Regions from separate parts of the Homo sapiens genome. Here all the other regions are reported to be linked to region 2. The links are microRNA targets in miRTarBase. Many come from high-throughput screens and were not tested one by one. Region 2 holds a microRNA gene; each other region holds the end of a gene's coding sequence.
Evidence for each region. The annotated mature microRNA hsa-miR-4731-3p reads CACACAAGUGGCCCCCAACACU and lies in region 2 at 5,986-6,007, shown strand. An mRNA with a match to its seed (bases 2 to 7 or 8) in the 3' UTR can be bound and repressed. Matches are read on the target gene's strand: a 7mer-m8 pairs with bases 2 to 8, a 7mer-A1 pairs with bases 2 to 7 and ends in A, and an 8mer does both.

Region 1 (10,638 bases), not on the chromosome of region 2:
TCTCTACTAAAAATACAAAAAAATTAGCTGGGTGTGGTGGCAAGCAGCTGTAGTCCCAGCTACTCGGAAGGCTGAGGCAGGGGAATGGAATGAACCCGGGAGACGGAGCTTGCAGTGAGCCAAGATGGCGCCACTGCACTCCAGCCTGGGCGATGGAGCAAGACTCTGTCTCAAAAAAAGAAAAAAAACGAAAAACTGAAAAGGCAAGCCAAAAACTAGGAGATGATAATCGCAAAACTTATATCTTATAAAGGACTTATATCCTGAATATATTACTTACAATTCAATAAAGTGACTCAGCAAAAACAAATGAGTAAATATTCGAACAGTCACTTTACCAAAGAACATATACAGATAGCAAGTAAACACCTGAAAAGATGCTCGGTATCTTTAGTCATTATGGAAATGCAAATTAAATCCAGGAGTTAATATTACACACTCTCTTGAATGGTAAAAAATCAAGACTGACAACATCAAGTGTTGCATGAATATGAAGTAACCGAAACTCTCATATGATTGCTGGGAGAAATGCAAAAGAGTATTCCAGCTTTGGAAAAGAATCTTGTGAAGTTTCTTATAAAGTTAAAAATATATTTATCAGGCCAGGCATGGTGGCTCACTCCTGTAATTTAAGCACTTTGGGAGGCTGAGGCAAGTGGATCACAAGGGTTCGAGACCAGCCTGGCCAACATAGCAAAACCCTGTCTCTACTAAAAATAAAGGCTGCAGTGAGCCAAGATCGAGGCACTGCACTCCAGCCTGAGCAACAGAGTGAGACTCCATCTCAAAGAAACAGAAAAAAAAGGAATATATATATATATATATATAAAAAATAGCCCAGCAATGCCATTCCTTGAGTATTAAGATAAACAAAAATCTACATCCATCTTGAAAATGACAGAAGTAGATTTTAAGTGTCCTCACCACAAAAAATGGAAAGTATGTGAGGTAATGTGATAAGTATGTCAGTTTAATTATTTCAACGTAGTCATTCCACAATGTATACATATTTCAAAACGTGGTACATGATAAATTTACACAATTTTTCTTTGTCAATTTAAATAATTACCTAAAAAGAAAATCCACACCCAGATAAAGAATTGAACATAAATTTTCACAGGAGCTTTATTCTTAATAGCCCAAAACTGGAAACAGTTCCATGTTCATGAATGGGTGAGTGAATAAACAAACTATGGCATAGCCATCAGAAACATTAGGCTAAAGGAGAGAAATCAGACACAGACCATATGCTTTATGATGATACTGATATGAAATTCTAGAAAAGTCAAAACTTTAGTGACAGAAGGCAGACTGGCAGGGTTCGGGAGTGGGAGGAGGGGATTGACTGCAAAGAGCCATGCAGGAACCTGGGGAGTGATGGAAAGAGTCTATGACTTACTCGTTTAGGTAGTTGTAGTACTGTCTGTCAAAACTCATTGAGCTGTGCACATAAAATTGCTGAATTTGATACATATGAGTTATACCTCAATAAAGAAAATACGAGGTCAAGCTCAGTGGCTCAGCCTGTAGTCCCAGCACTTTGGGAGGCTGAGGCAGGTGGATCACTAGGTCAGGAGTTCGAGACCAGCCTGGCCAATATGGTGAAACCCCGTCTCTACTAAAAAATGCAAAAATTAGCTGGGCGTGGTGGCGTACACCTGTAGTCCCAGCTACTCAGGAGGCTGAGACAGGAGAATTGCTGGAACCCAGGAGGCGGAGGTTGCAGTGAGCCGAGATCACGCCACTGCACTCCAGCCCAGGCAACAGAGTGAGATTCCATCTAAAAAAAAAAAAGAAAAGAAAAGAAAAGAAAGAAAATAGAATTAGCACTAGCAACAAAAATATAAGGTACTAGGAATTAATGTAATGAAATGCAAAAACCTTCATGAAGAAAATGATAAGATTGTGTTGAAAGAATTGGCAGGGACAGTTAATACCCAGCAAAGATTGCAGGTGATCTCCCACACAGCACAGCCTCCTCTGCAGTTACGCTGTGGCCTTGTGACAATGGAATATAAGAGCAAGTGATGTTCACTGGTGAGAGATGTAGTTCAGATGCGGGAATCTCATCTAGTTGTCTCTTCTTCTCCCACAATGATCTTGGAGAATGGGGGTTCAGTTCAAGTTGGTATCAGTGAGGAAAATGCTGCCTGGGCTGCACAGGACTTTACCCAAGCTGGAATAAACCTTTATTGTCTTAAACCTTGAAATTTGTGGCTCTTTCTGTTGGGGCTGTTTGTGCTCATTAATACCAAAGACATTAAAGAAGACCCAAATGTGGGAAGTTATACCCTGTTCATCCATGGGAATACACATTTCCGCAACAATGTCAATGTAATTTCAATCAGAAGCCCACTGGACTCTTCATGTACCTCAACAGATTCTAAAATGTCTGTGGTAGTGCAAAGAGATTGGAGTAGCCAAGACATTCCTTAAGAAAAAGCTGGGGGGCCGGGCACGGTGGCTCATGCCTGTAATCCCTGCACTTTTGGAGGCCGAGGCAGGTGGATCACCTGAGGTCAGGAGCTTGAGACCAGCCTGGCCAACATGGTGAAAACTCGTCTCTACTAAAAATACAAAAAAATTAGCCAGGCATGGTGGTGGGTGCCTGTAGTCCCAGCTACTCAGGAGGCTGAGGTAGGAGAATCGCTTAAACCTGGGAGGCGGAGGTTGCAGTGAGCTGAGATCACACCATTGCACTCCAGCCTGGGTGACAAGAGCAAGATTCCATCTGAAAAAAAAAAAAGAAGAAGAAGAAGGTGGGGGACTTACTCTATATCAACATACTTTATAAAGCTAGTGTAACTAAGACAATTGACTGTTTGAATGGGGATAGACAAGCTAATAGTACAGAATAGAGAGCCTCGACACAGACCCAGATATGATAGAGACGTGACATTGTATTGCATATTAATCAAGCCTCATTCAAGAAACAATGTAGGAAAAATTGGTTATCCATATGCGGCAAAAAAGAAATTGAACTACGCCTTCACACCACACCAAAGTCAATTAGAGTAAGGACTTAAATGTGAAAAGCAAAACTTCACTTCTAGAAAGAATATAGAACACATCTTTACAACATCAGGGTAAGATAGGTTTCTTAAGCAAAAAAGGCACTAAGGAAGTACTAGACATTAAATATATATATATATATATAGCCAAAATTGACCTCATTAAAGTGTAAAGCTTCTGTTTATCAGGGAACACCCCTCCAAAAAAAGCAAAAATACAAACCATAAACAGATATTTGCAATAAATATAGCGGACAAAGGATTTAGTTTTTCAAAAAGATGTGTAAAATTCTGACAAATCAATAAAAAGACAATAGAAAATTGGTCAAAATATGTGAATAAATATTTCTCAGAAAAGGAAACACAAACAGCAAATGAATATACGAACAAGCATCCAACCTTACTGGTAATTGGGGATTTGCACATTAAAACACAAGTAGATATGACTAGATTAGGAAAAATAAGAAAGCCTGATGATTCCAATTATTGGCAAGAATATGAAGCAAGAGCAATTCTCATACTCTGCAGGTGGGAGTGGAAATTGTTAGAACCACTTAAAACAGCTTGGCATTATCTTGTAAAGTGAAGATTAATTTACTCTGTGAGTCAGTTATTCCACTCCTAGATACAGAGCCTAGAGATCCTCTTACCATGTTTTTCAGGAGCCACAAACAAGAACATTTGTCGCAGCAGTCCTGTTAATCACAGGAATGAAAACTGACTGAAATGTCTATGTTCGGAAGAACACATATGTAAATGGTGGACGATTCATATACTGGAATGCTATACAGCAATGAAAACGAACTATCCATGCATTGACAGGATCTCAAAATTACAGTATTGAATGAAAAAAACCCAAATTATTAAAGAATGCATGCAGCATACCATTTATGCAAAGTTTTAAAATTACAAATATATTCAGTGGTGTATGAAGATGGTGGGTATGGCCCACCCCTAATGCAGGTAATAAAAAGGCCCACTGTTTGTAAAGAAAAGAATAATAAAACTGACCAAAATCTGATTTTTATTGTCACCATACATCAGCAATTCTGGACAATATTATTGATAAAAATTCTTGCCACAAAGGCAGCTACTTCCAATCTCCACTCCCCACCTTGGTGTGCAACTGAATACATTCTTTAGAGTCATTTGTTTCTATAGAAAGAGTATCATGAAAAGTAATGATAAAATTCAGGTGAGAGGTTTTCCTTGGAGGGAGGGAGAGGGACACACTTGGGCAACAGCATAGATGCCTTCAAAGGTATTCCTTATGCTCCATTCCTTATGTTCCATTCCTTAAACTGAGTGATTGGTACATAGCTGTTGATATTATTTTTTATATCTGATTTACATAATGTATCTCTTCAGTAGGTACGAAATATTCCACCCTCAAGAGAAAGAAAATTAAAGCAGCAAAATCAACAAGGGGTGCAGGTGGAGGAGAAGGCATGCTTTGTAGTGCACTGGAAGCTGCAAACCCAAGAAAGAATAAAAGGGCCGTGGTCAGTCAGAAGAGAATGAGGGACCCTGGAGCAGCTGCCCAGGCCGAGGCTCAGGGCATGCGGGGGCCTGAATTGGGGTAGGGGAACTCTGGGAAGCTTTTGCTTCCAGGCTGGGGAAGCCACAGGCCTAGGTGAGGTTAACCCCAGGAAGTGCATCTGGAGTGAGAAGACGGGGGACAAGGCCAGAGGCCCAGGGAGCACCAACCTTTTGGGAGAAAGAAGAGCCCTTCAAGCTGAGGCTGAGCTTGAGAAAGGTGAAGCAGTGAGCAGAGGATGGGGTCCCATGTGCTGAGGAGGGCCTGGTGGAGGAGGTCACACCCTGCTAAGAGGACAGCAGGACGCCGGCTGGGAAGGAGGCCCTGGATTTCACAATGTGGGCAGGTGAATTCATCAGAAATTGTCAGAGCCATGCGGTGGAGGAGGAAATGAGGACAGGGAGGGGACACAGCTCTCCGGTGGGAAGAGTGAGGAGTAGCGGCTGGGAAGAGACGTGGAGTCCAGGTAGGGATCTTACGCATCTTTCAATTGTCCCTTAAAAATCCCAGTCGGGTTTAGCCCCACTAGGGAGAAAAAGTGCCTTCAGGCCTTCCCACAGCGCCAGCAGCACGAGCACAGCAGGTGTCCCTTGGGGCTGACGCATAGGGTGCTCATGGTGGGGTGGAGGAGCTGTCTGCCCCTGTGCTGGGAGCATTCTATCACTGACACTGTCTGAATTGCTGGTACATGGTGATCAGAGGAAGCAAACTGACATTTAGTCACTTTTACCGTCTTTTTAAAATTCTCTACAGTTAACACACCCTTTGTTGCCTGCACCAGGGACAGACAGCTCCTACCGCCAGCCCTTGCTAAGGCTCTAGTGGGACGAGACCAGATTGAGTCCCCGGCACCTGGGTGTGCAGCCCCGCTCCTTTCTTCTAGCTGACAGGGCTGGCAAATTCCTGCCTCTCTGAGCCCCTTTCCCTTTGGCTCACTGTAACTGAGGGAAATTCTGACCTCTGGGGTGGTTGGGCAGATGACAGCAAAGGAAAGACCCAGGGCCTACCGCACAGGAGGTACTTACTAGCTGTCCTTCCCGCATCAGGGAACAGAGGAGACAGTGACTGAGGACCCCGCAGCGAATGCCCCACCCACACAGGCTTCCTCTCAGCGGGGCCTGTCCCCACTGCTTCCCCACAGCCCCAGAGGCCAGGCCTCAGCCATTCAGACGCGGGGGAGGTGATCGCAGCACAGGGCCGCGCCCTGCCTCTGCCGCTCCGGGGGTCCCCAAGGAAGCACCAACGCCTGGCCGCAGGGGGCAGTTGTCATGGGGACGCCAGGGCCCGCTGAGCTGCCTCCTTAGCAACGGGACTCCCCGGCCAGTTGCCATGGAAACAGCATCCCCTGGCAAGCGGTGATGGGGAACGGCTGGGTTTCCTGCCCTTTTCCGAGGACTTTCCCCTCCTAGGGCGGGAGACACGGCACTCCCTATACCGGCGGGAGCCGCGAGGACTTGGTTTTTCCAGTCGCCCGTCGCCACCCCAGGAGGGGGCCTCTGCCCGACCCCGCGAAGTCCCAGGGCCCGGAGGAACCCTCTGGAGACAGGGGTGGGGAAGGGGGTCACCCGGGGACCAGGCCTAGCCCCGAACAGGCACAGCAGTGGGAAGTCCGTGCCCTGCCTCCTTCCAGAGGCCCCACATGCTGCCTCTGCCCTCGGGCCCCCACCAACCCACACAGGAGCCCAGCGCTGTTCCCCCACCCCTCGGCCACCCTCTGATGCCCTCCCCCTTGCCCAGTCACCTTGTGTCTCCAGCCACCCTCCCACTTCTGAGAGCTTACCTAAGACGGCATCCCCCTCTATCTAGCTGGATGGAGCCCAGGTGCACATTCACCACCCTCCTCCTCAGCCAGCCCTGGCAGTAGGGGGTGGGAAGGGTCTCACACCTCCCCCACTCCTGCGTTTCTCCCCTCCACTAGCAAAGCACACATGCCCACTCGCTCTCACCCTCCTCAATGATTCTCACCAGTCCATAAGCACGTGCACACCTGTGTCCATAGCCAGGCCTTGCACATCCCCCGTGCACACCTCTATGCACAGAACACAGCTCCATGCTCTTGCAGGCATAGGTTTGCACATACACAAGTGCCCTCTGGGCCATGTCCCCTGCCTTCCACACCCGAGTTCCCAAGACTCCAGGATTTCCCAATGACCTCACCCCCACCCCTATCCCTGGCCCCTAGAAGAAGGTAGCATCTGCTGGAATTTTTTTTATTTAAATAAAATATACAATACGGCGCATTTACCGGTTTCTGTTTTAAAAGTGGATTTGAAAATTCCTTGTAGGTGACTGGGTGTGGGAGGGCCCATTGCCTGCACCTGTCTGTCCCAGTCTCTGCAGAGTGGCCAGGTTGGGTCAGAGCTATTATAAAATGCATGTGTGTGTAAGTAGAGAAGAGGGTGGTTAGGCCAGGCTCTGATGGCAAGGGGGCTCCTCATGGCCCTGGACCCTCCACCTTCACCCCTGCTGCCTCCAGGACAAGACTGTGGGTTTGGATCAAGTCCTGCTGCCTCTCAGAGCTGCCTTCCTTAAGGGGAAGGGGTGTGTGCAGAACTCAGGTTGAGGCTAAGTCCTTCCAGTTCTCAGAACTCCTGAGCCAGCACAGTAGAGACCAGTACTAGGCGGCGTCTAGTCTTTACCTAAGATCCCAGGAACCTTCACCCACTTCTCTCCTGGAGTACTGCCTCCCACTCCCTGCAGCCCATCTATGGAGAAATCGGTTTGTCTCACATCCCAGGATAGCTCAAGGCAAAACCCGATCTTGCCAACATTCTGGCTTGGAGCATGGAAGGTTCTGGATGGATAATGTGGGACCAGCCCTTCTCATTACTTGGGGATTGCAGCCATACCTGCTCTGGCCCTATAGGCAGGGGCAGACCCCTGACCTTGGCTCTGGCAAGATCCCATCTGGGAGGAGGGAGGATGGTGCCTCCAAAGGCATCTGAGCTGCTTTCTCGTTCCCGCAATCTGGAACCTGCTTATGGCTCCTAGTTGCCAGGACTAAGCCCAGACAATCCCTTACCCTATCACCCAAGGCCGTCCCTCTGACCCCTCAGCCTGGGGATCCCCTCCCAAAGCCCTGATCCACCACTCCACATCCACCTCAGGAATCTCCCCACCATACACTCCATCCCACCCACCATTCCCTCCCTCTCTCCCTGTTGAAGTCTTCCCACTTCTCAAGGCCTGGCTCCCACCCACCTCTGGCCACACACCTTCCTTGGGCCCTTAGGGAGGCCCAGCCACCTCCTGAGTCCTGAGATTTTAAGTCTTGGAGCCCTCAGCCAAAGCTCCCTGGGCTCTCACATAGTTTGCTGGAGCAATAGGCTGGGCATATGAGGGGCAGAAGAAATGTGATTTTTTATTGAGCACCTACCATGGTATGTGCCAGGCGCTGGGCTGGGCATTTCACATATAGATTTTTCTCATCTGGTCCTCATAGGTCCTTGTGAGGCAGTACCATAATTATTCCCATTTTACAAATGAGGTGACAGAAAGGTCAGATAACTTGCCCAAGATCATACAGCTAAGAAGTGGCAGGGCTGGGATTCAAACCCAGGCCTGACTGCTGCCAAAATCTGGTGTCTTCCTTCTGTACCATGCTTGGGGACCATCTACCTCAGCCCCCCTCAACACAGTTTTCTGATGGAAGGAACACAGACTTGGGCCTCAAGGAGGCGTGGACTCGAACCTCAAATCAGTCCCCACTCTGCCACTCCTAGTTACATGATTCTGGAAAAATTACCCAAAACTGTTTCTTCCTCTGCTAAATGGGGAGAATCAAAGTACCCACCCCATGGTCTTTGTGAAACTGAAGGAGTTAATGTGTGTAAAGTGCGAAACCAGTGCTTGGCACAGAGCAGACTCAATAAACAGAAGTTCCGCTCACCTCCCACTGTACAGATGGGCAAACTGACGGCCCCAGAGGTGGCGGTGTGTGCTTGAGGCCCTAGGAAAGGGGAGTCTTCCACTTCCGTGTGGTGAGAGGTCAGGCTGGGACTGGCTTTGAGACCAGAGATGGGGAGAGAGGGGGCCTGCTGCGAAGTCCTGGGGTCCTCTTCCCTGAGGACTGGAGAGAGAACGTCCCTAGACCATGCAGTGCACAGCCTGTGGGCCAAGGCGGGTTGCTGGGTGTAAGGTGACCTGGGCATCCTGTCAACATGGGATTAAACTAGACCGCACACGTGTGCGCACATGTGAGTGGCTATCTACATGGCTCTACAGAGCGCTACATAGCTATACATATACACATCTTACATACATATACATATACATATTCATATACAGATCTTGCTACGTTTACAGTAGAAAAAATGCTAGGCCCTCAGGGCCCTGGCCCTTTTCTCCCAAGGTCGCAGGCTTCTGAGGCTCCCCAGGGCACACCCCAGGGCAGCCCCTTTCTGGGGGCAGAGTGGAGCTCCAAGTTACAGCTAACGGGCTGATGGCAGCTGTTTCTCTAAATGAACACAATGACACATCTGCTCTAAGAACCGCCAACACTGGCCACTCCCACCCCTGCCCAGCCCCGGAGACCCCATCTGCCTTTCTCTGGCTTTTGCATTTGGGACCTGCCTGCTCCCTCCTCCCTCCCCCTCCCTCCCTCTAGTGCTGAGTATTAAAATAGTCTATAAAAGCAAGTGACCAAAAATCTATAGCTCTAAGAATACCTGGTTATTTTCTGCTGTCTTTTGTTTTTCTGGTGTGTGTGGTTTTTTAAATAATTATTACTGTTATTGGTATATCTCCTAATCACAGTTAAACCTGAAGGAAGAAGGAAGGGAGAGAAAAGAAGAAAGAAGAGGGAAGGAAGGGCCCAGCTCATAGATTGGATGGCAGTTTGGAGCGCACTGGCTCAGGCCTGGCCCCAGGTTCCCTCTGGGGTCCAGCAGTCAGAGGGGGCCCCCCAGAAGAGGTGGCTCTTGCCCCAAACAAAGACAGAGGGGGTGGCAAAGAACCTGAGGATGTCTTCCGAGGCAGAGTGACGTGCTGGCCGGGGATGGCACCATAGGGCCTCCCAGGGGGACCGAGGCCCCCGCTGCTCCCACTGCCCCCGCTGCCACCCCCAGCCCTGGGGAAGAGCGGGAAGGCAGCCATGGACTCCCCTGAGGAGTGCGGGGAGGCTCTGCGGAGAGTCTGCGCCCCGTCCTGAGGCAGGGCTGGCTGAGACGCGGAGATGAGCTTGAGGTCCTGGGTGAGGCGGCCGGGGGTGAGCGGGGGTGTGCCCCGGCGCTGGGGGACCTGGGGTGGTGGGGGGCTGGATGCAGGTGGCAGGAGCAAGGATCCGTGGGAGCCAGAGGCCCGGGGCGGGGCACTCGGGAAGGTTCTTGGGGGGCCTGGGCTGTGGCCAGGGGGGCTGAGACCTCCTCGGGGAGTAAAGCCTACAGGGGAAGCCCCCCCAGAGGCCCCTGCCACAAGGGACGGCGGCTCAGGCTGCCGTGGGGGTGTCTCTGGCGTGCTCAGTGGGCCAGTGGCCAGACCTAGGGACAACTCCCCGGGAGGCTGGCCCAGCTGCCCGGGGCTAGATGACGGGGATCTGGATGAGGGTGGGGGTGGCAGGAAGTGCTCCGGGAGTCCCAGGCCTCCCCGGGCCCCGGGTGGCGCGGGAGATGGCTGGGCAGCCTGCGGGGAGCGGGCGCCTGGCTGCAGCGGGGTGAGCAGGGGAGAGTCGGAGGAGGACAGGGAGCCACCCAGCGCCTTGTGGAAGTGGCCAAACCCGGCTATGGTGGTGGCGGCTACGCCAGCTGATGGTGTGGGAGCCGAGGGGGAGCCACAGGCCCCGGGGGGTGGGGAGGAGCTGGATGAGGGCAGGAGTGGGCTCAGTCCAGCGGGGGCAGAGAATCCAGCCAGCTGTTGGATGTGGAAGGAGGATGAAGACGGTGTGTCCACCTGGGACGGGCTGCTGGCGGGCGAGGCGGAGCCCAGCGCAGAAGGGATCAGGGACTGCAGCCGTTTCAGGTGCCTTGGCGTCTGCCCGGCACCGAGGTTGCCCAGCCCAGATCCTGGGGGAGGGCGGAAGATGGCAGCAGGCAGGCGAGGGTGGTGGGTGAGGGCTATGGCCACAGAAGTGGTGGCAGCGGCAGCCTGCAGTGG
Region 2 (9,253 bases):
GTGACCGTAGCACTGCTTGTCCCCAAAGCCACAGCATCCGGTTTCTCCCCCTTTAGGGTCTGGCTGAAGTTCCCGGAGCACTCCGGATGGGAGTCTCCGTACTCGCTACTGACACCTGGTGGTTACAAGTAGTGACTCAGCCCGAAAAGGGCAGGCTTTGGTGCTCACAGGCGCCATCCCCAAGTGGCATCTGGCCACGCGGCTTGGCACAGAATCCTGGACTCTTGGGCCCGGAAGGGGGCAGTTTTGGCAGGCGTGTTAAAACCCGGCGAAGTTTCAGCAGAAACGAGGCGGCAGAGGAGTTGCTAAGTTGTGCTTAAACCATCTGCAGGAAAGAAAGCAATATTGACCTGTAGCATGTTACAGATTGACATTTGGTGTCTTCTGCCGTTGGAAATAGCTGTCAGTTGGTGCTAGAAGCAGATCTCAAAGAGGCACTAGGGTTATTTTAATCAGGAAACTTCTTATCTCTCAACTTGTTCCTTCTGTGCCAAGCTCATGTTCTTGAGTTCATTTACAATGCCTCCTTAGTGTGGGTTTCAAATCTGCCTCGTTGCTTTCCGTGAGGACCCCAGAGTGTCTGTTTTCCACATCTCCCTTCTCAGCTCTCACAATCAGGGCATTTTGAAAACATCTGGACACTGCACCTGAACATGCTGGGTTTGTTTTCACGCCACTCAGGCTTAATCTAAATTTGAAATTTCCATTTACACTTCCCCAGTAGTGGTTATCTCTGCCGCTATCTTCCCCAACGTGGCAGCACTTGCTACGACTTCAGCCTTAAGTGGCGAATCCTCCAGGGCCTCTTTGATTGAGTTTAACAATTGTGGCTGCAGACAATAAGCTGAAAAAAATGTGTACTTTTTAAAACATTATACTGTCTTTACAAATGAACTATGCTCATTGCGAACCATTTAACTTGTCTGTATTTGCTCTTAGAAAGTATATTTGAAAAAAAATACTTGTTAAGTAATCAAAAGTAATTTGTTATTGACATCGATTTGTGAAGAATATGTTGCAAGTGTGAAAAAATAAATAGTGGTGCAATCTCGGCTGACTACAACCTCCACCTCCTGGGTTCAAGCGATTTTCCTGCCTCAGCCTCCCGAGTAGCTGGGATTATAGGCGCCCAACACCACGCCTGGCTAATTTTTGTATTTTTAGTAGAGAGGGGTTTCATCATGTTGGGCAGGCTGGTCTCGAACTCCTGACCTCAGGAGATCCACCCACCTCACCTCCCAAAGTGCTGGGATTAGAGGTGTGAGCCACTGCGCCATGTGACTTGGTATTTTTTTCTGAAAGGACTCATTTTTCTGGTGCATGACCATGACACTTCACCTCTCTCTGGGGGTTGCCACTCATGTTGTTTTCTACATGAATGGGGCCTCCTGGCATCGTGCCATGAGGCAGTCTAACATCTAGGTTGTGTAGTTTGAAAGAGACACACCAGATCTTGCCCCCAGGCTACATCTTAATATTAGAAATAGTTTTAGATTTTTAACTAACTGACTTTGACTCCGCCTGCCTTCTCGTTTTTCTAAATGTGTTTGTATACTTTCTGGCACCCCCTCCTTATCTGCCTCGTGTGGGCAGAGGTAAGAGAGGCTTAGTGTGGGGATATTCGTTATGATATTGTATCCAGTGCCTCTCCGGCCCAGGGAATACAAGGATCTGGAATGCATGGGCCTTGCCTTGATGGTCCCGAGCCTGGTCGAAGAGTCAGGAGATAGATATGGAAGGGTGAATCACTCCCTTGGAAGGCAGAGCAGGCCAGGTGCCCAAAGGGAGGCAGGCAGACAGCGTCTGAGTTCAGGGAGGAAGCGGATGGGAAATCTCTGGTGGGAGGTAGAATCTGATCCATCCTCCAAAGGATGGGCAGGATTTAAGTCAATACAGGCAACGGGGAGGAGAATATTCCCTGTGACCTAAGGTAAGGGTAGAACAAGGCAGGGGATGGGGTAGACTGGTTGGCTAGTGTTCTGGTTAGGATTAGGATTGATTGTGTATAAGAGAACATCTTCAAATGATAGGGGCTTAAGTAAGATCATTTATTTTTCTCTCTTTTCAAAGAAGTCTGGAAGTAGGTAGCCTGAGAGAGGTATGGAGGTTCCATGAAATTGTCAGAGATGCAGACACTTTCTAGCTCATTTCTTTGCCATCTCTTGGGTTTGGCTGTCATCTTCAGGAAACAAAAGGCTGCTAGAGCTCCAGCCATCTCATCCATGATTCAAGCAGTAGGGTGGAGAAAGGAGGTGGGGAAGAATGAATCTCCTTTTCTTTTAATGAAATGTGACATGGTCACACCTACACCTATTTACAAGAGAGGCTGAGAAATATAGTCATTCGGCCTTGGGGGAAGCATGGCTTTTCAAATCATAGAAACCTGGCAGCAAATACCTCTCTGTAAGCCTGGTGTGGAATACTTTCCTTGAGGGTTTGACCATCCCCTCCCATACCCAATCATACTCTTTTGCAATAGCTCAGTTGGGCCCTATGCAGTTCCATAAGTCCCAGTTATTTCAGCATTCTTCAAAGAGTCCATCTCTGCTGCATCCTGGGCTCTGTCAGCCACCCCACCATTCTCACATGGGCTCTTCTCAGAAACTTTAGGACCTGTTGAGGCTTCTCTCTCTCTATTTCTACCACCTCTCCAGGTATAAGTAAGTCTTATTATTATTATTGAGACAGAGTTTCACTCTTGTTGCCCAGGCTGGAGTTCAGTGGCGCCATCTTGGCTCACTGCAACCTCCGCTTCCCGGGTTCAAGCAATTCTCCTGCCTCAGCCTCCCGGGTAGCTGGGATTACAGGCATGCGCCACCACGCTTGGCTAATTTTTTGTATTTTTAGTAGAGACGGGCTTTCTCCATGTTGGTCAGGCTGGTCTCGAACTCCCGACCTCAGGTGATCCACCTGCCTCAGCCTCCCAAAGTGCTGAGATTACAAGCGTGAGCCACCATGCCTGGCCATCTTATTATTATTTAATGAGTCCAGACCTCTCTTCTGAATCCCAGACCTGTTTATCCAGCTGTCTCCTGGCCACTTCCCTTGGGATATCTAAGAGAGGCCCCCAAGTCACTAGGCCAGAGACAGTCCTTATCTTCCTCTGCCAATTCAACCCCTCTGTCACTTTCTAGTATTTTAGTGAATGCTGCTTCACCAGCCAGCAAGCCAAACATCTAGAGTCTGCCTTGACTTGACGCGTTTCCTTCTTTCTCTTCTCAGCATTGTCACGGGTCCCTCAGGCCACCCCATTGTTCCAATGCCTGTTGCCCACCTGTGGTCACGCTGCTTCCTCGTTTGTCAGAGGCGCCAGGGCAGCCTCCTAACTAGTTTGCCTGAACCCTTTCTTGCTCCTCTGTGACTCATTTTTCATATGGAATCCAGGCTGATATTTAAAAAAGCACAAACCTAATTATATCACTCCTCATTTTGAAACCTTTCAGAGGCCGTTCATTGGTCTTAATCTTCAGATGAAAATCTTTAACAAGGCCCATCGGAATCTACCTGAATGATCCACTCCTGCTTCTGTTAAGTCTCACCTCCCATCTCTCTTCCCCTCATCTTGGAATTTCAGCGTTTTCTCACGTCCTGAAATGTGAACTTCCCACTTCGGGAGTCTCTCCATTTCTCTTCTGATCTTTCATGCAGGACTATTTCTTGAACAACTCTCGTGTACCAGAGACTATTGCAGGTGCTAAGGTTACAAGAGTGAACAAGAGCTTATGTTTTACTGGACAAACCAGTCAGTAAACATGGAGAATTTGGGGGCAATGGTAAGAACTATATAAGACAGGGTAATGGGATAAAGAGGGATTGCAGTGGTGAAGGAAGGTCTCCTTGAGGAGTGGCCAGGAGCCAGCCATATGAACATCTCGGGGAGGTTCCATACAGAAGGACCGTCAAGTGCAAGATCGCTGGGGAGGGAAGGAGCTTGGCGTAGTTGAGGGACAGAGGGCAGGGCAGACTAGTGGGAACAGAGAGTGAGGGGTAAGTAGAATCACAGACCATCTCAAAGGTACCCCCCACCCCCACTAGGAAGGAGTTGGGTGCACATGGATGCATTTCTAATCTTTGTGATTTCCTTAGACCTGCTGTCTTCCACGGGTTTCTCAGTGGTCCATTTGATTCCAAGTTGGAGTGACAGTCCAGAAGCCTCTATAAGGCAGAATATATCAGAAATTGTACAAGGTAGAAATGCATCGGTATATTTTCAGTGATTATTTTGGGTGACGGGATTCTTATCACTTTGGCTGTTTTCTTTCTTTTGCTGCCTTACCTGTTTTCCTCATTGAGATCTTTTATTTTCACAATCAGAAAATAACTGTGAACATTTTATGTTAGAAAATTGGTTTTGAGTAGTAAGTAGGTTCCCTCTGCCTTGATTAAGAGAGTGGAGCCCTGGGGCATGGCACGCAGGGTCCATGGCGTCGCTTTGAATGAGGCCAGTTCCTGGAGCTTTAGTTTGCAAACTCATACAATCTGGAAGGCTCTGGTGAGGGGGAGGGGTGTGCCAAGCCTCCTCCCCAAGACCCTATGGGTGAGTTTAAAATCTACTGACCCAAAGGATTCAGGCAAAACATTTGCCCTGCTATTGAATGAACCAGTGCTTTTTGTTTTGAAGTCTCCAAGATCCAAATATCAAGTCCAAGTTCTCACAAGCATTCCCCTGCTTTTTGTTTAATTTGTGTGGACCTGACGTGTAGCAGAATGGGTCAGAATACTGGAATTAAGCCACAGGCGGCTTGGGAGCCCAAGAGCTAGAAGGGCACAGTCCTGGCTTGCCCTGGCCCCTGGCTGGTCTTCATCAGCTTCAGTGATGAGGCAGGACCCAGGCAGTTTGTCTTCAGTAAAATCTGTCTCTCAGGGCCTGTCCCTGCTCACAAAGTCCTCTCTTGTCTCAGAAGAAAAGGTAGTTGATAAACTTTTTCATGCTGAGGTGTTAGGCACAAAAAATGTGCCCCTTTTTGAATCACTTTTGTTTTTAAAAAGGAGGCCAGTGCTCAACACCAAAGCATGAAGGGAATTGTTGAGCTTTCCTGTAATCTGTCCCCAAACGTCCTTGGCCACCTCCATTGTCTAAGGGCAGTACCTGCAGCCCCTCATTTCCCAGTGACAACAGGTGGGTCTGCTCTGCCACAGTGTGTGGGCGGGACCAGCACCAGACGCTGAGAAGATGACCACTTACTACTCTTCTTTTCCATTTAAACAGCAGCAGCAGCAGCAGCAGCAGCAGCAGCAGCAGCAACAGCAAACTCATGACTATCAATAGGTTGTGTGAGGAATTAGATCAATGCTTTGGGTTGAAAATTAGAGAAACTAAATCTTGCCAGTCTCAGCAGCCCCCAACCTGAGCCCTTGGTGGTCTCCTATCATCGCTGTCTTCAAAACGATCCCAGACTTGTTTATCAATTTGGTGACACTGTCATTTTGGCAAGGACACCAGACAATTTCCTTGTCTGTGGCTCAGCTTTTGGCCAGATTTTAGAAAACACGGGAGACCTTCTGCATTTATGGGTTCATGTTTTACATTTTAAAATCTTCGTGGCTCCCTCAGCCAACCCATAATCTCTACCCAAGGAATGGCTCTGGATTTTACAGGCTCTTATGAGATGCTGAGACCCTGGTGGTACAAGGGAGGTACAGAGGACGGAATGTGTTGTCAACATGCCAGGATTTCAACCCTTAGGGTTTCTCTGATGCCAATACCCAGGAATTAGTATGAAATGTTTGTTTGAACCTGTGTCTGAACTGTATGACCTGGAATCTATAGTCTTTGCTTTAAAAAAACTTCAATTGTATCCCCAAGATTTCACCAGCACCAAGAAAACATCCCTTGCATTTCAGGAGCAGGGACTGGCCATGGTGCAGCCTGAGGTTGTGGATGTTGATCTTTGGTGCCCGAGAGAAGGCTGTCTGGGATGAAGCCTTCTGACTGTGGTCAGGTCCCTGCCAGTGCTGGGGGCCACATGAGTGTGCAGTCATCCACACACAAGTGGCCCCCAACACTGGCAGGGACCCGGAGTCATCTGGCCCATCCCTCCTTCCTATCCCATCGAGCCACAGACCCCTCTGCAATATGCCTACCACATGTTCATCCTACCACTGATGGGGAACTTATTACCTTCAAGAGAGCCTCTTTTGTTTTTGAAGAGCTAATAGTGAGATCCATTCATGTGTTCTTCAACTCTATTGAGCCTGTCCTATGTACTGGGCACTGTTCTAGAAATGGGGTGCACAGAGATGAACAAGAAAGAGCAGGTCCCTGCCATTGTGCAGCTCACAAGGAGTTGGAGGAAACAGGCAATACACAATACATGCATCACTATGGGTAGTGGAACATGCTCTGCAGGAAACAAATAGGGTGATCCAATGGAAAGTCATCACTGGAGGAATGAGCTGCTCAGGGAAGGCCTCTTCCTTCCATAGTGATGTGGTCTGAGATTTAGAAGACAGGGAAGGACCAGTTATAGGAAGAACCATGGGAAGAAAATTCTAGGAGGTAAAGGGAAGAACCAAGGCCCTGAGTTAGCTGAAGAAAGGAGGGTGGGGAATGCGGGAGAGAGGGATGGGAGCAGGATCGCTGGTGCCTCACAGGCTGTGGTACTGAGAAGGACAGTTGGGACATCATTGAAGGGTTTTAAGCAGAAGAGTGTCATGATTTGATTCATGTTTTGTAAGCTCATTCTGGCTGTTGAGAATGAATTCTGGGGAGAGGCAAGAGTGGAAACTGGGGACCAGTGAGGAGTTTGTGGTCATAGTCCAGACTGGACATGATGATGACACTGAGATGACAATGATGACAATGACAATGATGTTAAGAATACAAACAGCTCACGTAAGTGCCAGGCATTCTTTGAAAAGCAATGCATTTAATCCTCACAAGAACTCTAGGAGGTAGCTGGTGGCTTAGCTAGGGAGGGGAAGTAGAGAAGAAAACAGGTCTCATGACAGGGTTTGCTGATGGGTTAGATGTAGGGAGTTAGGGAAGAATGATTCTAGATGACTCTACGTTTTGGGCTTGAGCAACTGGTGTGTAACTGAATCTTGGACTGAGATGGGGAGACTGGAGGAGGAACAGAAGATTTGCGGGAAGGTGTAGAAATCAGGATTTATATTTTGACCATCAGAGAGGTCAGCAAATCACTTCAATTTAGAAGTCTTTGGCTTAGGGGAGAGGTCTGGGCTGGAAATTCAAAGTCAAGAGTCATTCCTCTATACCGAAGGGTATTCAATGTTGTGGTGCTGAATACAGTTACTTGGGGAGGAGTTGAGAGCAGAAGGCAGAAAAGGGGAACAGGGTTCAGAGCTAAGTCTTGGGCATGCCAGGGGTTAACGAGGGTACAGGAAGGAGAGGAGACTGGGGATGAACAGCCAGTGATGAGGGAGGAATGCCAGGAGATATTGTCACTTAAGAAATTACCTCGGCTGGGCGCGGTGGCTCACGCCTATAATCCCAGCACTTTGGGAGGCTGAGGCGGGCGGATTACAAGGTCAGGAGATTGAGACCATCCTGGCTAACACGGTGAAACCCTGTCTCTACTAAAAATACAAAACAAAATTAGCCGGGCGTGGTGGCCGGTGCCTGTAGTCCCAGCTACTCGGGAGGCTGAGGCAGGAGAATGGCGTGAACCCGGGAGGCGGAGCTTGCAGTGAGCCGAGATCGCACCACTGCACGCCAGCCTGAGCGACAGAGTGAGACTCCGTCTCAAAAAAAGAAATTACCTTGTTAAACCCAACACTGCCCCTCTTTTGTCCATTCACTTCTAGTTGCCTTCATTCATGCCTGATGTGCTGGACTTGGGTTTTATCAAGTTGCTTGGCACGTCCTTAAAGAATTTAAATCTCCACAGTGCCTCCTGGACAATGACTGCAGGGTGACCCCCGTCTCTCCTCTACACGATGACTCTTCAAACAGTTGACGATTGCAGTTTTTCTTTCCTTCCTTCTTTCAGTGGCTTCTCTGGTGCTGGTCCCAGCTGCATAAGCAGGGCCTCTTCTTGCCCTTCTGAAGTTTGGTCAGTGGTTTGGCTTGGCAGGCTGATGAGCAGAGAATAAGGGAAGCCGCTCTCTCTTTGCCACACCATTCTCCTTCCACCCTCTCTAGTTTTTGTGGATTCTAAGTCTGAAGAATGGTGGTAGAATAATTTAATTCATTAGATTGCAAGCATATCATTGACTTCTCTGCACCCCCAGTGTGTTGTAGTGGAAAAACTAGTAGTCTGGGCATCAGGGAATCCTTGTTTTTCTGCACCGGGTCTGCCTGTAACAAATTAGGTAACCTGGGGCAGGTACCCTGGTTTCCTAAAAGCAGAGCAGGCATTGAGGTAGGACCTGAAGTTGAGGTAGGACCTGCACATTGCATGGGTCCCGGAGCCTCTGTTCATGTTCAGGATGTAATTGTGGCATCGAGGGATCCTAAAAGGAGGTGGCCTCTGAGCTGGGCCTTGGCAATGGGGTAGAATTGCAGTAGGCAGAGGGAGCAGAGATGGGTTTTGTGCTTGTAAACGGGCATTGGTTTACTGTCACTGGTGGGGGTAGCAGCTCTTTTGTTCTAGCTCTTCATTTCCATAATGCGTGTTCTTTTTTCATACTTTAGGGGAAAGAAGGAGGAGAACTCTATTATTTCTATGGGGAGAATTCCTCCTAAACCTGAAGATCTTAAAACTAAGCGAATTATTCCCTGTTCATTCTCCACTGATGCAGTTCATGACTGCAATTGCAACTGCCTTTCCCGTCATTTTCTATGGCCAAACTCAGTGTTTTTAAGTGAGCTCTTCTTTTAAAAAACAAAAACAAAAACAAGTCTCCTGATAAATCCGTTTGAAAGACACTAAGTTTTGAAAGTTAAGCAGGCTTTGATCATTCATGGTACATTGTGAATTACCAAGGAGGGAGATTGATATCCTTCATCGTACAATGCACTCCCCTCCTTTTTCTTTTGTATCTGGTGGAGTAAGTCTTCCAAGAGCAATTCTTAGAGAAACAAAGCCTACTCTGTTTCCCTGTTTCTAGAGTTTTCCAACAAGGGTATAAAAAAGCCTCAGACAGCTTACTATTATCCAGTAACCTCAGGTACCTCAGTGGCTGCGTGTTATTCCCTTTAGAAGTCCAAAAACTCACTAGCAGAGCAAGAATATGGATGTCAAAGTGCAGAACTAGACCCTGACAAACTAGCTCTGTGCCTGCCACAAAGCCTCTTAATTAGGAATGCAGTTCATTGAATAACTGTATCAAAGTTAGCTGGAATACCTTG
Region 3 (10,865 bases), not on the chromosome of region 2:
CACCTGATGTGCCAGGCTAACTGCTGGGTACACACATGTGCATGTAAGAGAGAGAACGAGGATAATGCACAGTCCTTGCCCTTGAAGGGGTCGCAGTTTAGCGGGGGAGGATCTTAAGTCATCCTGTGACAATCTAATAATCCCATGCTCCCAAACCCACATGTGCTCTTGACATCTCTCTCACCCCCACATACTCATACGTGCACACACAGCTCCCGTCTCCTCAGCTCCAGCTCTGCCTTTCTGGAAATGCTGGCTTGGTGTGGACCCTGTGTGGAGCACAGGGGTTTCAACCTTAAACAAAATGAAAAGCTGTTTGGTCCTGTGCCAGCCCCACAGGCCCCCTTCCCCGCCCCCTGCCCATTTTTATCAGACCCTCCTGATGGCAGGGCTGTGAAATCTCCCCTGGAGGGGACCGTGGGTCCCTGGACTGACCTTGTCCTGATGTGTTTGATCAGCTGTTTCTGGCCTGCGCCGGGGGAGCCAGAGCTAGAAGAAGCGGCAGGAATGGTGTTTGATCAGAGCAGCTGGGAGTGGTGGGGCCTGGCTGGCTGCTCTTAGCCTTCTGCTAATCTCTCCTCAGAGGACAAAGAGAGGAGGATGTTCTGACAGACCAGCCCACGGGTAACTTGGGGTACAGCCTCAATGACCAGAGTAAAATGTGGAAGTTGGGTTCTCCCTGAGCCGAGAAATGAAGGTAAGCAAGAGGGGTACCACTTGGTTCTGGCAGAGCCTCTGTGTGCCCAACACAGCACTCCTAACTCTCAGAGAAACGAGGGCAGTAAATAGGATGTGGTCCCTGTCCTCATACTGGTTAGAATCTCAAATGAGATGAAGCTGTGTGAGGATTAAGGCACCAAATACACAACTGCATACCTAGGGTTTCAATCGTGTAGTGGATGGATTTGGGACATCGCAGAATACAGATTTAGGGAGTGACAGGGAAAGCTGGGGGAAGTTCTTTCTCCACGATGGAGCTCAGGATTCTAGCAGCACACGCAACCCCGCCAAGTGCTGGCTCTGCCTCACAAGGTTGCAGACATGAGGTGGATGGAGAGTAGATGGAATAATAGCGTATTCCACGACTGGCTAGAAACAGCTCATACTGAACATGTGGTGCAGAGCTGCAGAATAGGAAGCAGCTCCTCTACCCCTCGGAAGAGAGAGCCCAAGGTCAGAGTCCCTGTCTCCAGCAGTCGGCAGCATCTGCTAAGCATCCACTGAGTACTGCCCAGTCTGAGTATGCGGAGGAGATACAGAGGTCTTGGTGGGCATGGGACCTACACCTGCCCTGGTGAAAGGCCAAAAGGCAGGACAGATGCACGAAGAAAAGCCTGCAGAACATTCTCGAGAACATGAACTTGGTTTCTATGTCCACGTCCTTATAACCTCTTCATCTCTTAATGAAGAGTAAAGACCCTGGTCTAGGACACCTCTGCATGGTGCCAGAGCCCCTTTAACCTTTCACTCCAAACATATCCTGAGCATAAGCCCATGGAGAAAAGGATAGACAGTGAACACTAAAGAGGCAGAGAAGCCAAAAATCACTGCAGACTTAGTTTTTCCATTTCCTTTGCTCTCACTGGATGTGTCCCCACCCAACATTCCCAGGTTTCTGCCTTTACTCAGATGCGACCCCTCTGCTGCAGTGCCAAAGAGCTGAGAGCCCCTGTTCCAACCCGGGAGATCCTGTTCCCCTCGTACCACTGTTCACTCTGGCCTGGGCTGGGGTCTCTGGGTTTATGCCTCCTCTTACCCTGGTTTTGGAGACCCTTGCACTGGGTTTCAGACCCTGTTATCTAAGGACACATTAGGTACCTCCTTTCCAGCTGTCCTCCGCCCCAGCTCTTCCTTTCCAGCTGTCCTCTGCCCCAGCTCTTCCTCCAGGCCCTTCTAAAATATTATAAACACGAACAGCCATCATCTACGAAGCGTCTATACTCTGTCAGATATTTTACAAATGTTAACTTTCTTCTCATAGTCACTGTCAGGAAAAACTCGCCCAAGGTCATCTGTCTAGTAAGACGTGGAGCTAGGAAGCTCCCAAGCCCATGTCTTTTCCACCATGCTGCTCAGCTCCTTCCAGCCAGCCACCTTGGCCCAGAAGATCACTGAGGGAACCCCTCGGCCCACTTCCTAGCTCTGCTCAATCCCACCCGACCTGCAGCAGCACTTCACCTCTGCATACCTTCAAATGTGGCTGGGGCCCAACTGTATGTTACAATTACCCACTGCAGCTGGCTGGGACACTCTCAGGACTACTGCCCAAAATATGACATAGGCAGCTCCAGCCCTGCTCTCCAAAGACAGCACTTAGGCAGGGCAGCATTCCTTCCTAAACACACTTGCGGACTCTGAACAAGGGTCCATCTGTGCTCCTCCAGAACTGTCCCAGGAGGAGTGAGCATAGAACCTCCCCAACTCCTCTGCTCTCTACAGCGTCAGGGCTGCGGGATCTGATGCCCCTCCCCTCGTCTTAAACACTGGGTGCTTCCTGCAGAACTCATGTACATCCCATCCGGGTCTCCTGCTCTTGTTTCCTTGTTGGCTGCCAGCAATGTGACATTTTCAGCTGTTCACCAAGAAAGGTTTAGTTTATTTTACAGCTATCTGCTCAGCACTTTGTACTTTCGGGGCAGTTGAGATTCAAGAGATAAATGAAAAGTGGGTGTTATAAGGATCCCTTAAGGCTTCAGAGAGGAAAAAGACTACATAAAGATACAGGAATGAACATTCTCTTTAGTGCCAGAGAATGCAGGGAATAGTTGACTTGTATGCCAAAAACTTTTATTAATAAAAGCTAAAATTTTCTATATTAAATACATTAAATCCAGACTTTTAATTCATACTACAATTCTGTAGGGCAAGCACAATCATTTTCCCCATTTTATAATAAAGTTGGGAGCCAGGAGGAGGGAGCTCAGAGAGAGTAAGCATCTCACACAATGTCAGTTAGACAGCGGGACAGCTGGATGTACCCAGGCTGGACACCAAAGCCTGTGCTCTGAAACCCTGCCCCACACTTGCTCCCTGGGAAGGAGGGTTTAGGAATGAGACTCCAAGTGACAGGAGAGCTTTCTTTCCCCCAGGCCATGTTAACACGGCCTCAAGGTACACAAATGGCCCCTAGGACACCAGGCCTATCACCCCTGTCCCCGTCTGACACTGGCCCAGAACCAAAGAGAAAGCAGGTCTATAACATCACAGTCCATTTGAAACTCATGTAGCCTAATTTTTTTCAAAGTACATATTTTATTTATATAGATTAGTGCAAGCTGAACAAGAATATGGTTTGTAATCCAATTTATACAGCATCACGTAGTGGCTGACTGTCCTGACCATGGGTGGAAGCAGGGATGACTGGCCTTGGTAAAGGAAATGACACACATTCCCCCAATTTGGAAGCAATCTTAATTAGCCAGGGAGTGATTTTTTTCCTTCAGCAATGTAGTCCCCAAAGTACAGACAGCTTCTCTCTTCCTTATAGGCCGAGTCGTAGGAGTAGCAAGCTTCTAAATTTTGGCTGTGCCTCTGAGCTTTTGGCCTAAGTCCCACCAGCCCCGAAGTTTCCATGACAACAAAACAAGGATCAACGTGCCTCTGACACTCCCTTCAGCCCCAAATTGTTCTCTTACTCCCATTTTCTTCCTACCTCCCAAGTATCACTGGGATACAAGCAGAACAGGGCTGGGGTGCTGAACTCACCCTTGGGGAGGACTCATTATAGCATCCCTGCTTTTTCTCCATTATCGTCCAACTGCCTAGGCCCAATTTAATAACATGCTGCTTGTCTCCCTGGAACCGCCTGCCCACTCTATACATGGTTAGCACTTCCCTCCCTCCTTTGGTCAATGTGCAGCTTCCAGGCACGTGAGGTTTAAACACACACCCGCCACCCCATTAGCCTGTCTTCAGCTTGTGGTGACCACGTCACCAGCCCCCAGGTGAGAGACGAACTCTTAGGGCCCTTCTCACCATTCTCCTTCCTTTCTGGGAGTCCCTGATTGATCCCGCAAATAAAGGGCAGGGACCTGTCTCCCCACTGTCTGTCTGACTGGATTTCTTTTCACCCCTCAGCCCCGATTATCAGAACTCTAGCCCGAGGCATGAAGCTGACATGCCTTCCGTGGTCAGTGGGAAGTCAGAATGCTTCCTCAGAGGAGACCTGGATTGCCAGGGAAACCTGGTACTCACACTGCAGACCCTGCTACTCACTGGGCTCAAAGTTTCCCAAACACAGAGCTTCTGAGACAGAAGAGAGAGGCTGTCTCTTCATGTCTCTTTACCCATAAAATAAATGAGTAAAGACCCCTGGTCCCTGCCCCTCTGGTTCCAGGTTCTGCTCATGCGCGTGGACAGTAGGAGTCTCACCTTCCCGCAGTAATCCTTGCTCTTGAATCATCTATTTGCTGTCTCACTTACCTATGATGGGCAAGTCCTGTTCCATAACTGACCCCAGTATTCCCACAGAATCACACTCCAGCCTGGAATCTGACTGCCTTTCCCTCCTCACCACCTGGGCCATGAGCTCTGGGAGCAGAGGTCTGGGGACCCACCGAACAGATCCATGTGTTCCAAGAAGCCCACAGACTCCTTCACACCACCCCAAAGGCCCCAGAGTTCAGTCCAGAGGCCATAAGGGCAGCAGCCTATGGGGAACGAGGCAAAAACAACACCGGGACCCCATGGAAGCGAGCGATGTGGACTCAGGAGACCACACAAACACTGTCCTCTATGGCAGCAATTCAGGTCTCTTGGGCAGAAGTAGGAGAAAAGGATAAAATGGCCAAGCAGAGTCAGAAAGTTTTCCTATAAGATCCATGCCTGGGCTTCTCTAGAGAGCAAGACTATAAAATCAGTCAGCCAGTGCGGAGCCCACTCAGAGCAGACAGTAAACTCGGGAAGGGCCTTCCCCTCTTTCTTGATGAGAACCAGCACTGGGTTTGTGCCTTCTGCTGAGTGTGCCATGGGCCAGAGGGCATCTGATGGGCCCCGGCAGCCAGTCCACTCTCGGCACAGTAAGCTGCAAATCTGGTGATTCCGAAGAAAACAAATGTCTTGTCACAATCTGGGTCTCCAACAGAAACCTGGCCAGGCGTAGTGGCTCATGTCTGTAATCCTAGCACTTTGGGAGGCCCAGGTGGGAGAACTGCTTGAGCTCAGGAGTTTTAAACCAGCCTGGGCAACATGGCGAGACCCTGTCTCTACAAAAAAAAAAAAAAATACAAAAACTGGCCAGCAGTGGTGGCTCACGCCTGTGGTCCCAGCTACTTGGGAAGCTGTGGCAGGAGGATTGCGTGAGCCCGCAGAGGTTGCAGTGAGCCAAGATCGTGCCACTGTGTTCCAGTCTGGGTGACAGAGCAAGACCCTGTCTCCCCCAAAAAAAGAAACCTGAGAAAGAATTTCTCAGTGCTTGAAAGGATCTGACACTGGAATTCAAAATTTACAGCCCTCTTTATTCCGAAGAGTTTTTTTTGTTGTTGTTTGTTTTTTCTTTTTAAATCACTTCCCTATAAGCCCTCAGCAATTATTTCTAGTTTTGTTTTGGAAGAAATTTTAATGACATTCACTGCAACTCCCAAGCCCCATCCCACAGCTTGTGAGGGGCTGGATTCTCATCCACTGGACTTGGCACCAATGCCCTGTAAGCATGTGCCACTCTACGATCTTTCAGTGGGTTTTCTCTGCTGCCAAGGGGATATTCAGTGCCATTTTGCCACCTGCAGATCAAGAGCTCTCCCAGACTGACAGTTCCCAGGACGGAAAAGCCTTAATACAGGCACAGCCTTGGTAGAAACAGTGAGCCCTTCACATGGAGATGAAGTCTTAAAGGTTTGAGCACCATCTTCTGGTCAGTTTTTGGCTTCTGAGGCCGACTCTGCTTTAGAAACTTCATTTATTTCAGAATGGCAGAACCCTAATTGACAAGCTCAAGTGATCTGCGTATCAAAATGTGGACAGGACCAGAAGCAGGTGTAGTCGGCTGGGATGAGCTGTCCCAGGCTGGCCGGAGCTGGCGCTCGCTGTGGAAACCGTCGGGGCTGCCTGCACAAAGCCGGCAGATGCCAGTCAGTGGGCGTGCTGGTCAGTAAGGCTGTGCCTTCTGCGCTTCAAGCAGGGTGAGACCTGACCATGTGGGAGCAATAAAAGCTTCCATGGTGACCAAACGTGACTCCTGCCTCTGTACATGGCAATGTGAGATGTGCCTGGAAGGAAGGGGTGGCCCCATCTCTGCCAGTGTGGGATCCAACCAGGCACTCCCCTCCACAGGGGGTCAAGCCACACAAGGTGGCAGACAGCCCTGCCTGGTGTGTAAACACCGCACCAGCAGACTCCAACCTTTGGCATGGAAGGAAAAGAAGATAAATGCTAGTCATTCTCTCCAAACGGCAGGAACCTACATCTATCTAATTGCACTTCATAATGGATTCCACAAACCATTAATTATCAGATTATATTTTAGGAACTGAAGATAAAAAAAGCTTTGTGAAATTCAAACTCCAAAGGATCACTGACCTGCAATAAGTGTGGCGGCCTGCGGGAGGTGAGGCAGCAGGCCACTCACAAGGCAGGGAGTGGGCGGCAGCAGAGCCACGGGCAGTCACGGCTGCTCCTCCACACGCAGACAGGACTGCCTGCCTGGTGCTGGTCACAGTCTGCACCATATGACCCAGAGGGAGCCAGGCTGCCAGGTCAGGCAGAGATTTCAGCCTTTGATTAAAGGAAGGGGATGAAGATGACACGGAAGAGCTGTGGGAACCAGGCTTCAGGTAAGGAATACCAAGAAGAATGTCCTGGAAAGGCAGACACTGTCTAGCAGCTGATGCCTCACATTAAACACTTCCAGCAGAAACTCCAGAGCTTTGTTTTGGGAAGAGCTGACAACTGACAAGGGGTTATCAGGCATGGAAATGAGGGCTACCTGTCCTATAGCCATCAATAGGGTGCTGGGCGTGGCCACTGGGTGGAGGGGGAACCCCAGCAGAGGGTAGGATGATAGGACCGAGGAAGGGGCCAAGTGTGCCTCAGGAAGGGGCCTAAGGTCCCCGAATTGTCTGTTGGTGCCCCTCTCACTTTAAATGGCCAGAGGCAGTGGCAGCATTTGCAGCCCCCACTGTGGGCCAAGTCCCATATCTAACTGCCATTCTGCCCACTGAGCGCTGTCGGCACATCATGCCTCCTGGGGTACCCTGGTCACCAGCTCCCATCCCACTGCTCTTTCAGACTCTACTTCTGAAGCCACATGTCACTTGGGGATGGACAGTGTCATAGAGGCCGCAGCAGCGGGCCTGTGGGGAGGGAGGCCTGTCTGCTACAGAGGATGGTGCTGTTGGTGTTGAGGGCTCAGATGCTGTTGGTTCTATGAGAACAACGAAGCTTCCATCTGTTTTCTAGGTGAGACTGTGTTGGTTGGTGCTAAGCTAAGATGCTCACCACTCAGGACAGCCAGGGATGGAGGGCAAAGGGCAAGCTGTGGGGCCTCCTCTCTGCTGCAAACGCAGGAAGGCTCTGCCGGATGAAAGGCTGCTCATTTGGCCTCACCACAGATCAGCGTCACTGTGCCATCCAGCAAGTCCTCCACAGTCACCGCCACGAGCTCAGAGCTGGCCTGAGATGCCTGAGAATCTGGCAACGTCACAAACACCTGCGACCCGGCAAGCTGGGTCTCCTCCAAAGTGATCACCTGCTCTGTCGGGGCCACCGGCTCTGGGGTTTGGATCACCTGAAAGAGAAAGACCGTGAGGCTGCTCTGGGCAGTGTTCACAGTTGGCTCCCTGATTTACATGGTTTTCATCTCATGCTGTAATGATGATATTTATGTTTTCACCTGAGGAGAGCACTTACATGTGCCTAATGGGAAGAGGCAAGTCTAACCCACTGGCGATGCAAAAGAGAAGGCCAGCAAACAATTTAAATAACTGTGCACTAAATTGCTATAATTTTGCTCAGTACGCCATCTCGGGGCGCCCGGACTCTATGATTATACACCAGCGAACACTGGCTCTGTTTTTCACACTGGGCTTTCCTGTCTTGGGATGACACTGCAGAGGTGAGTGCCATGTGAGAGGAATGCCACTGAAGCCAGCTGGTCTCATGCCTGGAACATGGGAATGGGATTGATCCACCACAGGCCCAGGTGGGCCCGGGGCAGCCTCTCTGGACCTCTCGCAGGCTCACAGCCTTCCCAGGAGGCCACACAGTGACCGAGCTTAGGAGGAAGACTGGATGAACTGTGACTCCACGCATTCATTCAGCTCACCAGCCTGGCGGGGCCAGTGCCCCCTTCTCTCCTCCACAGCCCACCTATGTCCCTTCCAAATCTGCATAATCTGTTAGAGACCACCTTTCCAACTGAGAGAGAATGAGTCTGTGGTTAGGCATATCCAATTCCCGCCTAAGCCTCCCAGTTGATGTTTCTAACCCATAGATCCCAGAAGAGCTAGATGCCCTTGATATTTTTAAACTAGAGGCCACAGCCACCTTGCTCTTGAGAATCAGTGAAGAGCAGAGAGCAGGAACAAGTGAGGAAGCCAAGCCCAGCTACTTCTCCGTGCTACAGGAGAGAAGAGATCAACTGTGATGTTCAATCAACAATGATCCAGGATAGTAGTTTTCAAACTGCTTTTCTTTCTTTTTCTTTTAGAAATGGACGCCCCAGCCCCACCTTTTCCCCAAAGGACATATTATCAAGAACCATAATATACAAAAAAGATAAAAGCAGAGCACCTTTGGTTGATATGACAGCAGAGTGTTGGCGGGAGTCCTGCCTACCTGACTTCCCCTCTGTTCCCCAGAGGCCTGTAAGAACCTGGTTTATAAATGACTGATCTGGAACTGGACAGCGGGACAGTCTAACAGACCAAAACCTCAATCAGTTTATGGTTCCTCTCCAACCCACCCACAAATTACTGACGATGGATGGACCTGAATTTATTTTCCTTTTCTGCCCACCCTCTCTGGAGAAGATGGGAAGAAGAGTAAAAGAGGATCTGGGAAGCAAAGGGAAGCTGGATCAAGCTTAGCCCTGAAGCATCAAGAAGAGGTGGTTTTTTTGCCCAGGTAAAGGTGAGAGGCCCAGGTGTGTGCAAGTGTGTACTGTGTCCTGCCCAGAGGCGCTCTCCAAGCACTTCAACTGCAGGCAGTCCCTGCCCAACAAAGTGTTCCTCTGTCTCCGAGGTTTCCCGCAGTTCTCACCACACCCCACGGTGTTTCTCAGGAGGCAGGGACGTATGCACTGGGAGGAGGAACCAAGCTGTTCCTCTTTTGGAAATTATTGTTCCAGGCTCCCTCTACCTAAGGGCCACTTCCCATGTGGCCACCAGGAGACTAGAATTTTCTGTTCTGTTTTGTAAGAAGTCCAGAGAGACTCTCTACAAGATCCCCAAAGAGTATCTCTGGGTACTATGACAGAGCCACCTCTAGAGAAGCCTTAGGAACCATGCATTAGCATTCTAATGTAGCTGATGGCCCCAGAATCACCTGCGCCATCTGTGAGGCTGCGGCCTGGGTTTCCGTGCTCATCACCTTTGGGTGCTCAGATTCCAGGTGACTGTCAAGCTGGGCCTGGGAGGTGAAGAGTTCCCCACAGAGCTCACAGGGGAAGGTGGTCTCTGACTGCTTGAAGTGCTCCGTGGTGACATGGTGCTGCAATGCTCCAGGAAAACGGAAAGTAGCAGCACAGTACAAGCACCGGAATGGCTGGGACCCTGGAGGAGAGGGAGACAGAAGGGGAGGGCTGTGGGTAAAATTCTCTGGGTAAAATGAGAGAAATGAGGGCAGGAAGACATGAGAGGAAAGAGCAATGAGGATCGAGGCTTGGAGGCGGATCCACATTTTGTGGGACACGAACGTTATTCAATCTGGGGGGCCTTAAGAAAAATAATACAAAATGACAAGGACAGAGCCTTGGAAGGGTCCATGCAAGTGAGGGGCCCTGAGATGACAGTTTCATTAGTATCAGATTCAGGCCAAATCTGCCTCTGCAGAAGCCCATTATTCATTCAACTGCAGATAAAGATGCTGACGATACTATATTTCATCAATTCTAAGAAATACATTTTAACATCTCTGAAGTAGGATCAATGGCACCTTATGACTTCTGTGGGCTAAGGCAGTCAGGTGCAATCGTCAATGCGCACACCAACATCAAAAGTGGCAGCATCAAGACTTGCAGAATGGGCATCCACGGCTTGGAAGAAACTCCCTAAGACAGGAATGGTGCACGTTTTTAACTCATGGAAACCAAATGGTTTAGAAGGGAGGAAGTAAGTGATGAAAGGTTAGCTATATTCCCAAAGCAGGAATCAAAAGTAGACTAGTTTTACATAACGCTCAAGAGACCAAAACGAATGGCCTTCAATTCTTGATGGAATCTTATATTATGCGTTCCATCATCAATGTTCTTGATGGCAGAGTAAACACTGTGTGGAAAAACATGCTTGTTGACAATCTGAATTGAACACTACTCTGAGAAGCTGGATTCTTCCCTTAATCAGTTTTTTTATGTTTTCCTTTGTATGTATGCACACTAGAGTGAGTGACATGATAAAAATCTATGTCAAATTAGTCCAAAACAGCACTTAGAATAACGTAGAAATTCTAAGTGATAAGAAAGCACAGTTTAACTGGCAGTAGTTTTTCTTTTTTAATAGTTCCTTAAAAATGGTACATCTTGGCTGGGCGCAGTGGCTCACGCCTGTAATCCCAGCACTTTGGGAGGGTGAGGCGGGCGGATCATGAGGTCAGGAGATCGAGACCATCCTGGCTAACATGATGAAACCCCGTCTCTACTAAAAATACAAAAAAAAAATTAGTCGGGTGTGGTGGTGGGCGCCTGTAGTCCCAGCTACTCGGGAGGCTGAGGC

Region 1: the mRNA of HCN4 is a reported target of hsa-miR-4731-3p. The part of its 3' UTR that is shown has no 7-base or 8-base seed match.
Region 3: miRTarBase lists ZBTB40 as a target of hsa-miR-4731-3p. Seed matches in the 3' UTR shown: 7mer-m8 at 6,282-6,288 and 7mer-A1 at 3,113-3,119.

The regions. Positions count from the first base shown.
Region 1 is chr15:73,313,115-73,323,752 of GRCh38, forward strand. HCN4 (hyperpolarization activated cyclic nucleotide gated potassium channel 4) reads right to left here. Exons shown (of 8, transcript NM_005477.3): 8 at 6,745-10,638. The coding sequence ends at 9,367. Among named protein-coding and RNA genes, the nearest start is that of MIR12135, 19 kb to the left of the region's middle. RefSeq lists a silencer at 5,857-5,906.
Region 2 is chr17:15,248,388-15,257,640 of GRCh38, reverse strand. MIR4731 (microRNA 4731) reads left to right here and starts at 5,945; the gene lies at 5,945-6,014. All of the region lies in intron 3 of PMP22 (peripheral myelin protein 22), which reads left to right.
Region 3 is chr1:22,523,060-22,533,924 of GRCh38, reverse strand. It overlaps ZBTB40 (zinc finger and BTB domain containing 40), which reads right to left. Exons shown (of 18, transcript NM_014870.4): 17 at 9,481-9,707; 18 at 2,771-7,723. The coding sequence ends at 7,529. Among named protein-coding and RNA genes, the nearest start is that of EPHA8, 35 kb to the left of the region's middle.